Regions from separate parts of the Homo sapiens genome. Here all the other regions are linked to region 2. The links come from fine-mapping of genetic effects on gene expression. A gene starts in region 2. Each other region holds a variant in brackets. All regions are shown on one strand. Distances are between the middles of the regions.

Evidence for each region. PIP is the estimated chance that this variant, and not a neighbour inherited with it, causes the effect.
Region 1: its variant is the best candidate, but not a certain one, in a credible set for the expression of GPA33 in lung (GTEx, PIP 0.52).
Region 3: its variant is the best candidate, but not a certain one, in a credible set for the expression of GPA33 in cerebral cortex (GTEx, PIP 0.67).

The regions. Positions count from the first base shown.
Region 1 is chr1:167,112,615-167,117,837 of GRCh38, forward strand. It overlaps STYXL2 (serine/threonine/tyrosine interacting like 2), which reads left to right. Exons shown (of 6, transcript NM_001080426.3): 3 at 1,096-1,190; 4 at 4,714-4,945. Among named protein-coding and RNA genes, the nearest start is that of STYXL2, 21 kb to the left of the region's middle. The variant C/T (reference allele first, on the strand shown) is at 2,993.
Region 2 is chr1:167,087,884-167,093,106 of GRCh38, forward strand. GPA33 (glycoprotein A33) reads right to left here and starts at 2,494. Exons shown (of 7, transcript NM_005814.3): 1 at 2,362-2,494. The coding sequence starts at 2,404. LOC124904451 (a long non-coding RNA gene) reads left to right here and starts at 717. Exons shown (of 3, transcript XR_007066717.1): 1 at 717-801; 2 at 1,440-1,528; 3 at 2,903-3,498. RefSeq lists an enhancer at 2,520-2,669.
Region 3 is chr1:167,057,644-167,062,866 of GRCh38, forward strand. The region is part of intron 4 of GPA33 (glycoprotein A33); the gene reads right to left. It overlaps GPA33-AS1 (GPA33 antisense RNA 1), which reads left to right. Exons shown (of 6, transcript XR_922249.3): 2 at 664-784; 3 at 2,985-3,103; 4 at 5,028-5,120. Among named protein-coding and RNA genes, the nearest start is that of GPA33-AS1, 7.6 kb to the left of the region's middle. The variant T/C (reference allele first, on the strand shown) is at 2,612.

The DNA of each region.
Region 1 (5,223 bases), 25 kb after region 2:
TCTAATCTAAATGGTATCTGTGTATTGTGGAGAGAACACTGGACCTACAGCAGGACTGCCCTATGTTCTCAACTTAGCCCTGCCATTTACTTACTGCCTTAGGCAATTTTCTTAACCTTTCTGAGCCACAATTTTCTCATCGGTAATGCAGGAATAAAAATAATACCTAATTTGTGGAGGGTTTGTCAGAATTAAATTCATAGAAGGCACTCACAAATGGTATCCATTAAATCCTCCCTCTATGGACCTATAGGAAAGACTAAGCAGAAAAAAGAAAATGACCCAAAGCTCATCTGAACACCTGGAGAACAGGACAACTCACTAGAAAGTTGTTTACTAGTGAACTATGGTGTGGTCCCATCCCCACCGCCATAGTGCAGTCCCAGGTCTTGTGTCTGCTGTAGATTCTCCATGTTCCTAAAGGTCTTTTTTGACAACTGCACCGAATTATTTTTGGGAAATTGCCATGACATTTACCCAAGTTACTTTCTTTGCATCCCTGGGCTCAACCTGACTCTCGATTTCATGTGCTCAGAATCAGTACCCGTGCATTTGAGTTCATCTTTAGCATTGCACTTGGTGCTATGCCAGTTCTTCATCATTAGCCCATTCCCTTACAAACAGGGAGAAGGAATGGAGAACAAAGGGAACAGAAAGAGTGGTGGCAACCTATTCAGCCCAGCAGTCCAGCAGAAGACTGGCAGAGGCAAAATTAAGGACACCCTGTAGATTGATAGCAGAGGAAAAGGAGACAAAATTTTTAAAATGAGCAGCGGGACATCCAAGAAAGTGAAGCCACATCAGGGTGGGTTCCCCCAAGCGTAGATGTACGCTCTTGCCTCCACAACATAGACCACCATGTCATTAAACATCACACACCATCAGTGCCAACTGTGATCTGAAAATGGGTGGGCATCTGAGTCACATGATACCCAGTGTTCTGTATTCTTGGGTCCTTAAACTTAGGAAGGCTTTGCCTTGATCACTCGTTGTTCCCCACTTGTTGCTAAAATCAAAGCCAGGTTTCTCATCTAAAAGAATGCCTTCAGTTCAGATGCTACAGGCTTATCTCACGTGAATATCCTCTTCCCTTAGGTATTCGATGGTCTCAGATGCAGAAACAGAAAGCATTTTCATGGAACCCATTCACCTCTCCTCAGCCATTGCAGCCAAACAGATCATCAATGAAGGTAATGCAATCAAAAGCTGGGTGGAAGCAAAGTCCAGTGGTCATCTGGAGACCCTTAGAGGGGGGCCATTGGAAGACGTCAATGTGCCTCTCAGGTGCTGCCCATCACGTTAGGAAGAGCAGATCTGCAGAAGGCAGTTCTGCCAACCCTACCTCCTCAACTTTGATAGGATGGAAGTGGAAATAATTATGCATCAGTGTGAACAGGGACAACCAGAGAGGCAGCACCAATCTGTCCCTAGGGCCTCCTGCTCAATTTTTGGTTACCTCAGGGGTCCTGAGGTGGCTTATGGCAGAGGCACAGACCTGAGAGCCCGAGAAATGGCCAGAAGCATCCAGAGGGTTCTCTTCCAAGGGAGTCTAGACTTAGACCTGCACTTCCACCAGTGCTTAAAGATGCTTCAAACTGAAGGATGCATGGGGAGGAGGGAAAGGCTTGGGTGGGGAGCACCCAATATTCAATATGTTAATATTTACACAGTAAAATTTTGAAGCAGACAACATATAGTTATTTTTCACTCAAAGATACTTATCTGGATTAGATGAATTTTTTTCTAATCAATTTTAAGGAAATAATCTTTTGCAATTTCTTTCTTCCCCTTTCTTCTCCCTTCTCCCTGGGTAGCCTCACAACTCTGGTGAGATGGGGTGGAGTGGGATAAAGTGCACACTGATGAAGCAGGGCCCAGCTGGCCTTTGGGCTTAATCTCTCAACCACCGCTGGTGGCCACAATCCTTTCCTTGGTCTTTCATTATTAGAATCACATGCTACTCTTTGTCCATTCTAACTCTGGTACTGGTCCCCTGACCCATTTGGGTCTCCACCAGGGTCTCTAGAGGACATTTGGACCTCTTGCACACTTCACATAGAACCAGAAATTTGACTTGCTGTTGCTCACTGTTCTGGGCACTCTAGGAGGCCCCATCTTCTCAAAGACCCATCTGCTTTGGGGGATTTTTTTTCTTTTTCTTCCATACCTGGGGTCTCTGTTGTCTTGCTCCAAGATATCTTGTCCCAAGATATCTTGCCCACTAACCCAGGCAGTGTCTTCACCCTGGTCCAGTTCTCTCTGAATTGCTCCCAGCACCACTATAGCTCTAGAAAGTCTTTTCTTCCTCTTTTGTGGTTGGAAATTTCCCTAACCTTCCACTCTGCATCATCTCTGCTTTGTGCTTCATTCTGTGGACCATTCTCCATGTTTTGGTTCTTGATAAGTAAAAGTCCAGCTTTAGGAATTGAGGGGAGAAAAAAAATAAAAAACATTTTCTCTCTTTGAAAGCTTCACTTTCAAGTCTATAGAATGCTATGGACATTCAGTCTAGTTTGAAGCCAAAAGATGTGCAATGCCTTGTTTTATCCTGGCTCTTTTCTATTCTTCCCTTCTCTGGGGGCATCAAACCTAAGTTTCATTAGCCTTAGTGGCTGAAGGGCTATAGGGAGAGAAAAAACAATATATGCTCACTAGTGATTACAGGGGTAAAAATGTGTGCTGAAAACCTTCCGTTTTAATGAAAGTCTGCATATGCCACACATCCGAGAGTGTAGGGGAGAAATGTGTGGGCTTTACTTTCTGCTGAAGAAATGTCAGGTAATAGAAAGAAATTGATGCAGGGAGAGAGGCAAGCTCTACAGAGGCTGAAGTGTGAACCAGAGACCTAGTGAAAGCAGGAGTTGCCATCAGGGGTGAAGGGCTGGGACATTTGTTTTTAAATTGAAAAGAAAAGAAATGGAAACAACAACCTGCTAGATAAATAGCCGAGGAAGACAACACCGTGTATTTTAATGAGGTGTCAGGAGTCCCA[C/T]TTTTTATATGTAGTAAGGGAAAGACATCTAAGTAGACACGGGAAGGGGAGCGGACTGAATTTGCTATGAAAGACCCCAGGAGAGCCAGGGGAGAAAACTGGGTAGTGGAGAAAATAGGAACACTTCATCTATTTTTAAACAAAATAGAGCTCTGGGATTGCAGGAGTTTTCTTCTTTCTGCGTTTGAAACGGAGATCAGAGAACGTTTAGAGCTGAGCCCTGATGCAGGGATGTGGGGGTCCCTCAGGGGGGTTAGAGGAGGGAAGAGAGAAGGGAAATGAAATCCTGAGCCCTAGGCAGAACCCAAGGCTCCCTGGATTTGCAGTCCATGAGCAACAAGCCCTGCTTACAGACCCCTGGGAGGAGCAGATTCCACGAGGGGCTGGACCAAGTCTACCTTCCAAATGTGGCTGGACTCTCTGCAGCCCCCACCCAGAGACTGCCCATCAGGGAAGAGATGGTGCCATCAAGAGGCTATGGGGAACACAGAGGAAACATCTTTCCAGCTTCTTTTCTCTCTCTCTCTCTATTCAGTATTTTGGCTACCATGTGAGAGGAACGATTTTGTTCTTTGTTATTTTTGTCTAACTTAAAGAAAGAAAGCATCTTACATTTCCCCAAATTTGATAAACTGTGAGCAAATATATTATTAGAAGATAAAGATTCACCCCAGATGTGAGTGAATTGGGGTTTGAGTTCATCTGGAGTTTGAGCTTTTCTGACCTGTTGTCAGAAAGGCCCTGAGTCACGTTTTGAGATTAGAATGAGAGCTCATGGCCAACCTTTGCCACCTGTCTGTGGGCTGGGAGGCTGAGAATCATAGGTCCTTACATTCTAGTAGGGGGAAGAAGACAATACAAGAAATAAATCAGTAAATTAGGTGTATATTAGAAGGCAATATTGCATAAATTACTGCTGAAAGTTTTACTTTTCCCAGGGTTATTTGCAATCCATATGTAAAAGAGTCAAACTAACAGAGTGAATTATACTATGAATGAATGCCATTCACTCATTTGGTAAATACTTCTACTTTTTTTTTTTTGGTTTTTTTTTTTTTTTTTGAGACAGAGTTTCGTTCTTTTTGCCCAGGCTGGAATGCAATGGCATGCTCTCAGCTCACTGCAACCTCCATTTCCCAGGTTCAAGTGATTCTCCTGCCTCAGCCTCCCAAGTAGCTGGGATTACAGGCACTCTCCACCACGCTTGGCTAATTTTGTATTTTTGTAGGGACAGTGTTTCACCATGTTGGTCAGATTGGTCTTGAACTGCTGACCTCAGGTCATCTGCCCACCTTGGCCTCCCAAAGTGCTGGGGTTACAGACGTGAGCCACTACGCCTGGCTGGTAAACACTTCTGAGCATCCACTTTGTACTGGGCACTGTGGGAGTTATTAAGTATGAATCAAAGTACACCTAATACTTAAGGAACTTGGTCTAAAAAATTATCGACCAGCTTCAGAGAAGCATGGGAGGGAGTAAAAGAAATTGGATCCCCTTTACCCACATCTATACAGTCTTCTTGCTGACCCTGATTACAAGTGTTTGGGCCAGTGCAGCAGGTACCCTGGGCCCAATTAAAGTCCTTCCTGGGAGATCCTGCTGGCATTCAGTCCATGCCCAGAATCCTGGCAGCAAACTGGCCAAGAGCATGTTCTCCCCAGGAACAAGGAAGGCCATGATGTTCCTAACTCTCTGATGAGAATGCTGCCTGTCTCCTCTAGAACTCAAGCCACCGGGGGTCAGAGCAGACGCAGAGTGTCCAGGCATGCTGGAGTCTGCTGAACAGCTGCTGGTGGAGGACCTGTACAACCGCGTCAGGGAGAAGATGGATGACACCAGCCTCTATAATACGCCCTGTGTCCTGGACCTACAGCGGGCCCTGGTTCAGGATCGCCAAGAGGCGCCCTGGAATGAGGTGGATGAGGTCTGGCCCAATGTCTTCATAGCTGAGAAGTGAGTCTGACTGCTCTTCATGACCCTTTGTCCTAACCCTCTGGTTAGTGCCTGAGACAGACGAAACTCCCCCAACTTTCACCAAAGGCGCCCATAGGTCCATCCAGCACAATGAGGCTGCCTAGCCACTTACCCTGCCCCAGCCCAGAGAAAGGCCCCTCCATCCACCTGCATTCGGAGGTCTCCAGGCAAGATGCCGCCATGACTGCTTATCCTTTGCCCTCTTGCCAGGACTCTCTTGTCCCTCAAGAAGGCCTCTGGGCCTCCTTTCCTGCCAC
Region 2 (5,223 bases):
CCAGCCTGAGCAAGCCAGACTCTGTCTCACACACACACACACACACACAAAGCAGACCAACTTTTAGTCGGTTTTATGATTGCTTTTAAACTCCCTACTTTAAAAGCACGGCCTTGCGTTTGTGCCCCCTGCATGGAACCTTATGAATAGCTTCTGCTTCCTCCAACACCACTTGAGTCTTGAGGCCCATTCATCAGTGCAGTGCTTCCCTGCCCAGGTCTTAGCAGAATCAATTCCTCGGAAAGGTCAGATGGGAAGAGAAAGAAGAGAAAAGCCCAGTAAGTCCTCTGGAACCCAAGTCAAGCTCCACCTCCTCCAGGAAGCCTTTCCTAATGTCCCTGCTCCTAACTGGGTCTCCCTTACCTGCGCAAAGGAAGAGGTGGTATCCTCTCATGAGGCATGGTGGGGAGGGCCGCCTGGTTGCTTTTGGTCGACCTTTGAAGGTCTTCCTTGCTCACCTGCAGTGGCAATGGCTATTTCACTATTTGGTAAACTCTGTTTATATACCTCAAGTCGACCACCAAGCCTGGCTTCTCCTGCCCCACTGCTCTGGCCCCTTCTTCCTCTTAATGTAAGATATGGAGGAAGAAAAGTTGGTGGGCACGTGATTCTGTGCTGGGCAGGCTGTGGTGGGAGGGATGGGGCGGAGGTAGAAGACACTTCATCAGTGTGTCTGAAAACATGCCCAAGACTCGTTCTGCTGGGTGAGTTCCCCAGGGGTCACTTGCCTTCTCATAGGAAGAAGCAAAATGTCCTGCTCCAGGCAATTCAGAGTTACGGCCACTTTTCCCTCCAAGCTGGGTGAGCATCTTGTTTTAAGATCGTTTTTCTAAGCCAAAATTTCTTATTTTTATTCATGCATGGGTCGCAGCCAGTCTACAAGTGTGGGGATATGTGTTGGGGGTTGGGGTGGTGCAGGCATGGAGGAGCTTCTGGCTTACCAGGAGAAGATGGGAGAATCACTGGCCCAGCCAGGGAAGGATGGGTATTTCCTTCAGCCTCCCTCTCTCAGGCCCTGGAGCATCCTCCCTGCCTGAATCTGATGGCTGAGATAGGCCCACTTATGACTAATCATTCCAGACTCCTCACTTCTATGGCACCTGCACAAACTATGTGCTCAGTAAAGAGTTGTTTGGATAAAGGAATGAGCCAACCAGTCCATCTTGGTGGATGATGAGGGGCTTTCTGCCTTCAGTCAGATGAACTTGAGCCAGCCTGAGAGAATGATCTTACCCAGATCTTCCTCCAAACCGTGTGATCCAGCCCTTCCCCAGCAGCAGGCTGCCCTTCCCTCGAGAGCCCCAAGGCCAGGTGTTGAGAGAAAAGCATGTCTAGGGCCTGGGAGAACCAGAATGAGCTGTAGGCCCCGTGGCCCGGGGCTTTCCTGTGTATGCTAAAAAGTGAGCTCTAAACCAGTCTCCTGGTTTCCACTTCCCCAGGCTTGGTGCTCCTGAGTTTCCTGGTATAGCTCTTCTCCTCCCCGTTGCAGCTGGATCCTGGAAGCCCTCAACAGTGTCTGAATTGCAAGGTGATGGCCAAATACACTAAACCAAAGATATTCCTAAACTTTGCCAAACCCTGCGTCTCTCAACTTCCTTCTCTCCATTCTATTTCCTTCCAATGCCCAGCAAAATGGTTGGTACCTTAATGCCAAGACTTTCATTCTAACCCTTAGACACTCCATAGGTCCCCACAGAACACTGTGCTATTAAGCACTTGATGTGGATTCAACCATATACTCATGAATGTCTGATTTTGTTCTGGGAGGTTTCCCTCCCAGAGGGAAATGCTCAGAGTCCCAGAATTTTCAATGACCAGGGTCCCAGAAGTGGCAAGGAGCTTTGGCCTTTGGAAAAGACCCATCTAGTTTGTTGTTTGTTTTTAGGGTTTGAATCTTCTCTTGCTCTGTGAATGATACGGGATAAGTTGCATTGTCTCTTCTGCCTCAGTTTCCTGTCTCTTTCTCTGGTTTTAACACAAACGTTAATATACTAGATAATGAACATATCTAGATCCACACATCCTGGATTTTCTAGGACAACTCCGATTTCAAATACTTTGTCCACATTGTCAAATCCTGTGTCTGATCCTATAATCTAATTTGGGATAAGAAAATATGGTCTTGAGAGTACTTTGAATTCTTCATTTCAGCAGTGGGCTAGAATGTTATTTACTAATATGTAAATAAAAACCATTCTGATTCTGGGCACTGGTCCGGAATGTGTAATTCTGGCCCAGCAGGAACGCAGCTGTGTTGCTGGAGGCCCTTCCTGGGAAGGCTCTGACAGAGCCTCTCCTTCAGCCCTAGGTCCCCATGTCTCACCCACCCCTGGGCACTGGAGAGAAAAGGGGCCTACTCACCTGCACAGAGTGTCCACAACACAGGCCACATCTTCCCCACCATGGTCTTGCTTCTTCTCTGCCCTAAACCTAACCTGTCACTGGCAGCCTCCAGACAGGTCTGAGCTGTCTGGTTAAAGCTACAGCAGCTTCTGGCCTGGCCCAACTGGAGGTCCCTGCAATTTTCCCTCTTCTCACCCACCTCTGCCCAGCCTCAGCTGGATTGGCAGGTGAGCTCCTCAGCTGGATTGGCAGGTGAGCTGGGGCTGGGCTCATGTGTCACCTACTCCAAAGGTCCCAAGAGGAGTCTTCCCTACTTCCCTCAAGTTCCCCTTAAACCAGCCACCTCCCCTGCCTTCTCCCTACTTAACAAGTGTACAAAGTCCTAGACTGCTCACAAAGGGGTAGGCCTCTCTTATAACTGACAGGAAATAAATAATAAAAAGGGAAATGCACTCAGAGGTAGGGTTCCAAGCTAGTAAAAGAAGGGTGTTGCCCATATTTGCTGAAACACTTCAAGACACAATGTGATCTGTTTCTCTACTTCTCTCCTCTTCTACAGCCTCCACCCCACAGTGCGCAAGAGATATAGTCATGAAGAAAACAGGAAGTCTCCCCCTTCAGAGTTTATATTCTGACTGGGAAAGTAGCAAGTTCATAAGTGAAAGAAGATCATCTTGGGGACATGTGACCAACTTGTCTCACTTTTCCTAGGACTGTCCTGGTTTTCAAACCAAAAGGAACCCCCTCAGTCCCAAGCAAATTTGGATGATGGTCACCCTACTGAAAGAATGATCAGTGGTGTGGGACCATAATTCTCCAGGAGCAGTGGCTGTTGCTGGTTTCTTCCATAGATATTTTAGATATATATACACTGTTCTGCAATGATTTATTCATTTTTCATTTAATGAAAGGTTTTAGAAAGCTTTCTGTATCGGTATGTATAGCACCACCACCATCATCTTTTTAAAATGGGGATGATATTTCACTGTATATGAGTGACATGATTTATTTAACCAAACTACTTTTAAGATTGTTTTTCCTCATCTTTCACAACTATGAAAAGATTGCAACCAATATCTATTATGTGTACGATATTTCACACGTGTTGTGATTATACATGTAAGATAAATTCTTAAAAGTAAAATTTCTGACTCACTGAAAGTTATGCATATTTGTAATTTTTATAGATATTGCTAAACTAGCTACCATGAGAATTTTACAGCCTACACTCCTATTAGCAGCATATAAGGATACCTATCTCCCCACACACTCACTAACACAGTTACCAAGTGTTTATGACACAGTTATCAAACTTTCTGCTCATCGCCAATCTAAGTGAACATGATATCCCATGTATATATAATTTACTTTTTAAAATTATTAGTGAAATTTGGCCAGGCGCGGTGGCTCACGCCTGTAATCACAGCACTTTGAGAGGCCAAGGTGGGCTGATCACGAGGTCAAGAGATCGAGGCCATCCTGGCTAACACGGTGAAACCCCGCCTCTACTAAAAATACAAAACATTAGCCAGGTGTGGTGGTGTGCGCCTGTAATCCCAGCTACTTGGGAGGCTGAGGCAGGAGAATGGTGAACTCGGGAGGCAGAGCTTGCAGTGAGCCAAGATGGTGCCACTGCACTCCAGCCTGGGCGACAGAGCAAGACTCTGTCTCAAAAAAAAAAATTATTAGTGAAATTGAAAATCTTTTAATATAGTTGCACATCATATATATTTTCTTTTCTGAGACTAGGTAGCTCATTTGCCCGTATTTCTTTTTTTAATAAATTTTTAAAAATATAGACACAGAATCTCGCTACGTTGACCAGGCTGGTCTTGAATTCCTGGGCTCAAGCAATCCTGCCTCAGTCTCCCAAAATGCTGGGATTACAGGCATGAGCCACCACGTCCAGCCGTTTGGCCATATTTCTATTGAGCTGTTGATCTTTAGCTTGTTGACTTCTAGCAGATCTTTGTATATTAGGGAAAGGAACTTTTGGATGTGATAAGCATTGCAAATATTTCCCCTAGCATTTCTTTGTGTTATGAATTCATAGTATCCTACATGACTTATTGTTATTAATCCTTTTGACTGCTAGGTTTGGTTGACATACAAAATTTGTTGTTTTCTGTTTATTACATTTCACTCAGGCACCTTGTTAATTCTCTTATTATATGTAATAATTGTTCAGCCCCAACATTTTATAATATCTTTGCCAAATTAGTCTTCCTAATTACTTGTCTGCTTGGGTCCTATCACTGACTCTGCAGAACCTAACAAATTAGCTTTTAAGGTATTCTAGCATTTGTTCTCAAACACAGTCTACCTTCCAGAATACGTAATTTATGCTCTGACCAAGTTAGACATATTTTCATACCCAGAACTCATACTTCCTTACCCCCAAAACTTTATTGATGCCACCCCCTCGGTAATTCCCTTCCCCTACTATATCTGCTATTATAATCTTACTTGTCCTTTAGAAGTCAGCTCATATATCACCACTGCTTCTATGAAGTCTTTCCTGATTTCTTCAGTCAGAAGGGCTCTTTCTCACCTTTGAACTCACACAGCACTCTGGATCTCTTTTAGGACACTAACTACATTCTCTCTTATGCTTGAGTTATTTTTGGTCTGTGTCTCATTCCTCCTAATAAACAGTGAGCTCATTCATTCAGCCATTTCTAATGATACGATATACCAGGCATCATTCCACCTAACTAGGAAGAAAGACAACTTTAAGCTATGTGTTTTGCCAATTTTGGTCAAGTAAAGTGTCATATGTAGTAGGTAATCAATGAATATTTTAAGTTGGTAAATGGATGGATAAATGGATGAAAGGATGACTATGGTATGTGTGGGATGAGAGGTGTGGGCTATTTGGCT
Region 3 (5,223 bases), 30 kb before region 2:
CCGCCCCACCGTCACTTTCCTGCAAGATTGCATCTCAAGATTTTCCTTCTCCGGATGTGCTGCTCAGTACACATCCTCAAATGTGATGTCCTTTCATCCTTCCAGCAATCCTCAATATTTCAATCTCCAATTCATGGAGTTAACTGGAGGCTTAAAGAAGTTAAGTGAACTGCTCAAGGTCACAAAATTAAGAAATTATAAAACAGGAACAAAAATCCTGTTTCAGGTCTAGAACTCCCTGGAGCCATTGATAATTTTCTTTTAAAAATTTGTGGCCGGGTACATTGGCTCACGCCTGTAATCCCAGCACCTTGGGAGGCCAAGGCGGGCAGATCACTTGAGGTCAGGAGTTCGAGACCAGCCTGACTAACACAGTGAAACCCCGTCTCTACTACAAATATAAAAATTAGCCGGGCATGGTGGTGTGCGCCTCTAGTCCCAGGTACTTGGGAGGCTGAGGCAAAAGAATCGCTTGAACCTGGGTGGTGGAGGTTACAGTGAGCTGAGATCGCACCACTGCACTCCAGCCTGAGTAACAAAGCGAGATTCCATCTCGAAAAAAATATGTATAAAAATAAAATTTTGTATGATAAAAGCAATGTATGCTCCTTATAATAATTTATAAATGATATAAAACTATTATTTCAATTCAATTCAATACAGAAAATCTTTAGCTGCTGATCACAGCTATAAACGAGATGAGGAGGGTCCCTGTCCTCTTGGTGTTTCCAGTCTCCCAAAGAAGACAGACATGAAACAATGATGGTTACAGTTCAAGATGGAGGTACTATCTGAGCTTATGGCAAGGGGTTTTAATCTCATCCAAAGGGCCAAGGAATGCCTCTTTAAAGAAGAGAGAACAAATAAAAATCATTCATAATTCCATCACCTATAAATAACACTTTGATTTGGTGCTATTTTCTTTCAGTCTTTTCACTTGTACTTTCTTCAAATTCTTCCCTTGACCCCCAGGACACTACTCTCTGGATGCTCATTCTTCATAAAATGTGTCCCCTTCTATCCTAGAATTCCACGCCTCAGTATGTTTTCTGGAACATTGTTTACATGTGATATTAACATGCGGCATGGAGAAGGAGTCCCTAAAAAAGCAAGTTTAGGAATCACTGAGTTAGGATTAAGTAATCTTTCTAAGGGCAGCACTTTCAGAGCTCCTACAATGCTGTTGAGCACTGGGAACTTCTGACAGCGGGGTGTGGTATTCATGCTCTCATTTGCTAAATGAATCGGATTTGTTATTTTTAAGAGGCATCTTGAAGGAACACACTTTAGGAAATGCTCTATGGCCCTGGGCATACTTAGGAGGTCTAGAGCTCATAACAGATCCCCACCACTTAAGAGTGTGAAGCTCGGACTCTGGATTTAGTGTAGGCAGCACACTGCAGACAGTCAGGACTTTTTTAGTTGTCAGAGTCCAGCTTTGAGCTCTAGGCCTTGTTTAGGGTGGGGAACATGGGGTTTCCTAGTCCAATGAGTCAGCGCTATCCTCCCCCAGTTCCCTGATGCAAACCGTGTGCACTGGAAGCTGCTGGGATGAACCAGTGCAGGTCTTGTGCCACAGGACCTTCTTTGATTCCGAGTTGGGGCTCCCAAGCCCCTTTTCCTTCGGAAAGGGACTAGTAATTTCTGATATCCGGAGAAAACTAATGTTTCCGCTGCAGTGGCGACACCTTGTGGTCAGAAAGGGGAATGCACAGGACGGTCATACGCTTCCCACCTTCCTCTGCTCCAGCTGTGGAGAGATTCCCCTCAAGAGAACCTCCTGTCTCACCAAGACGCTAATGTCACGTTGACAAGACCTAACGTTTCCGCATCCCCCCAACCCCTACCCAATCCTGTAGCTTGTCGACAAGCCCCTGCTGCCACCTCTCTCTCACAAAGGGCCCTCACGATCCTCCTTGGACTGGTCCCCACCCTTCACAACCGCCTCCCCTTAAGTGCTCCAGGCCCCAGAACTACCCCCTCCCCCACTTCCTTGATATCCAAATTCCTGTTTCTTCAGTGCATGAAACTCAGCTTCCTGGGACACAGCTTACAAAGTCTGTTCAGAGCTATTACACATGGGATCTCCTCTCATCCTCTTCACAGCTTTTGGGGAATCCCAGTTTTTTTCAAAGGGCAGTACTAAGGGTCCGAGAGGCTGTGAGTGACTCACAGCTCCAAAGTGGAGAAGTCAGGACTTCTTGTTTCCTGATTCTGGATTCCCTGTTCTTTTCACTGCTAGCTTGTTTCCACTGAGGGTTTAGTCAAAGGAATGAATCTCTAATGTTGGAAATTGTCTTCAGATGTAGGAGAGCAGAGGTACCCTCCTCTCCAAATCGTCCATGGTGGACTGAAATGTTTTAAAAGCCAGAAATAATTTGGGCTGACCCACAGAGGAAGAAGAATTAGCAGATTCTCTCTATTTATTTTTTGTTTGTTTGTTTTGTGTTTTTAAGATAAGATCTGGCTCTAGTGCCCAGGCTGCAGTGGCACCATCTTGGCTCACTGCAACCTCTGCCTTCCAGGCCCAAGGATCTTCCCACCTCAGCCTCCCAAGTAGCTGGGACTACAGGCACACACCACCATGCCAGGCTAATTTTTGTATTTTTGG[T/C]AGAGACAGGGTTTCACCATGTTGCCCAGGTGGGTCTCGAACTCCTGTACTCAAGCGATCCACCCGCCTCAGCTTCTCAAAGTGCTGGGATTACAGGCATGAGCCACACTGCACCTGGCCAGAATTGGCAGATTCTCCAAGGCTCTGCAAAGCAGAGTGGAAACGAAGGCTTTGAGAACTCTGCCCTCACCCCGCAATGTCTCCAGATGCCAGGGCATGTTGTTATGGACATTAACCATATTCTTTTCTGTCACCTGCAGGTCCCCATTCTGACTCAGCAAATCTTAACTAGAGACAGGATAAAGCTTTCACAAATTAAAGCTTTCACAAATTAAAGAAGCAATTCTCTTTTCACCTCCTTTCCTGTCCTCAGGATTCTCCCTTTTGGATAATGAAAGAACTAAGTTTTGGCTTCTAACAACCAGAAGAGTCTCCCTGTGGAGGCAGGAGAGAACTGCAGCTGGGCTGCCCCTTTGTGAGGCTCCTCAGAAGGTACCCGTGGCTTACAGGGCAAAGACGAACCTCCCTAGCGTAACGCACAGGCTCTTCATGATTTCTCATCACTGTGTTTCTTAACAAGAGTATCTCCCACCATTCCTACACCTACACACGCACCCTACCCCTTAGCCACACCAGACAGTCATGATTCCTTCCTGTTCTCCATGCCAAGCCTCCTCATCCTTGAGGACCCAACTCAAATAACAGCTAATAACACTTAGCATTAAATGAGTGCTTACTGCCTACCAGGCACTAGTCTCAATGCTTCACATCTACTTTTATTTAATCTTCACAACCCTATGAAGTAAACACTAGCATTGTACCCATTTCATAGACATAGAACCTAAGGCACAAAGAAGCTGAGTCACTTGCCAAGGTCATACAGCTAACAAGTGTCCGAGCCAGGAGTCAAGCCCATGGCATGCTCTTAACCACTGTCGACTCCAATACCCACTCCTTGGAGAAACCTTCTTTGATCTTCTTATGCATCTTCTGTGTTACATCACCACTGGGTATAAAGCTATTATAGCATCTGCCACCTGTAACCTTCAGCTTTGGGTCTCCATATACACACTTTGCAGGAAAGAAGATCAGACACTACCAGTGTCCACAGCACACCTACCATGACCATGGCTGGAGTCACTAGACTATTCATAGGCCAGAGAGAGGAGGCCACAGAGCCCCCGGGGAGCTGCCAGGTGGTTTCAACAAAAATTCCAGACACACTCGATAAAAAGTTGCCAACCAGAAATACGTAAACACAACTGGAAGCTTGTTGAAAACCTACATTACATTGACCTATTTTAAGTTAGGTCGAGTGGATTCTACTAACTGTTTTTTTTTTTTTTTTTTTTTTTTTTTGAGACGGAGTCTCGCTCTGTTGCCCAGGCTGCAGGCTGGAGTGCGGTGGCGCGATCTCGGCTCACTGCAAGCTCCGCCTCCCAGGTTCACGCCATTCTCCTACCTCAGCCTCCGGAGTAGCTGGGACTACAGGCGTCCGCCACCACGTCCGGCTAATTTTTTGTATTTTTAGTAGAGACGGGGTTTCACCGTGTTAGCCAGGATGGTCTCGATCTCCTGACCTCGTGATCCGCCTGCCTCAGCCTCCCAAAGTGTCTACTAACTTTTTTAAGAAGTCGATTTGCCCCCAAACGAGTGATAAAGCTCTTCCTGGATTGAGTGCACCCCCAATGTGTGCATCCGTCCGGCTGGGCTTATCCAGGACACCAGATATTCTTCCCCCGGGTCCTCATCCCCACCCCCGGGGCACCTCATCTTCTCAGAAGAGCTGTGTGCCCTGCTGGCTTTGCTTTCCACCTCTGGCCTCCTTTTCCACCTACACTGAACTGAAAGACCTCCCAGAAGCTAAATCGGATGGACACCTTTCAGGCCTTGTCTTTCTTTTTAAAAAATATTTTATTTATTTTATTTTATTTTACTTTATTTTATTTTATTTTACTTTATTTTATTTTATTTTATTTGAGGCAGGGTCTCGCTCTGTCACCAAGGCTGGAGTGCAGTGGTGTGATCATGGCTCACTGCAGCCTCGACCTCCAGAGCTTAAGCAATCCTCCCACCTCAGCCTTCTGAGTAGCTGGGACTAAAGGGTGAGTCCTGCCATGCCCAGCTAATTTTTTAAAAATTTTGTTTGGAGACAGGGGTCTCACAATGTTGCCCAGACTGGTCTTGAACTCCTAGCCTCAAGTGATCCTCCTGCCTCAGCCTCCCAAAGTGCTGGGATTACAGGCATGAGCCACGGCACCCAGCAAGCCTTGTCTTTCTTGATCCTCAGGAGCAGGGGTGGCACTAGGGGCCCTGGGACTCCACCAGGGTATTTCCACACCCATTGGCTCTGGGTGTGGAAAGGATGGTAGGATTTTTATATAGCTCTTTCTTTTTTTTTTTTTTTTTTTTTCAGTTTCCTGACTGAAAGGTCCAATACCAAGCTGCCCAGTACAAAACTGGTCTCCTGGCAACTATAGCTGAATCCACCATCGCCTCCCCTAAGAAGGTGGGACCCTTACAGCAACATGGTGCTGTCGTTGTGTGGAGCCATAAAACGGTGGTGTGTCTGGGGCAGCGGGGGTCCGTGACGGCTGAGAGGGACCGGCCTG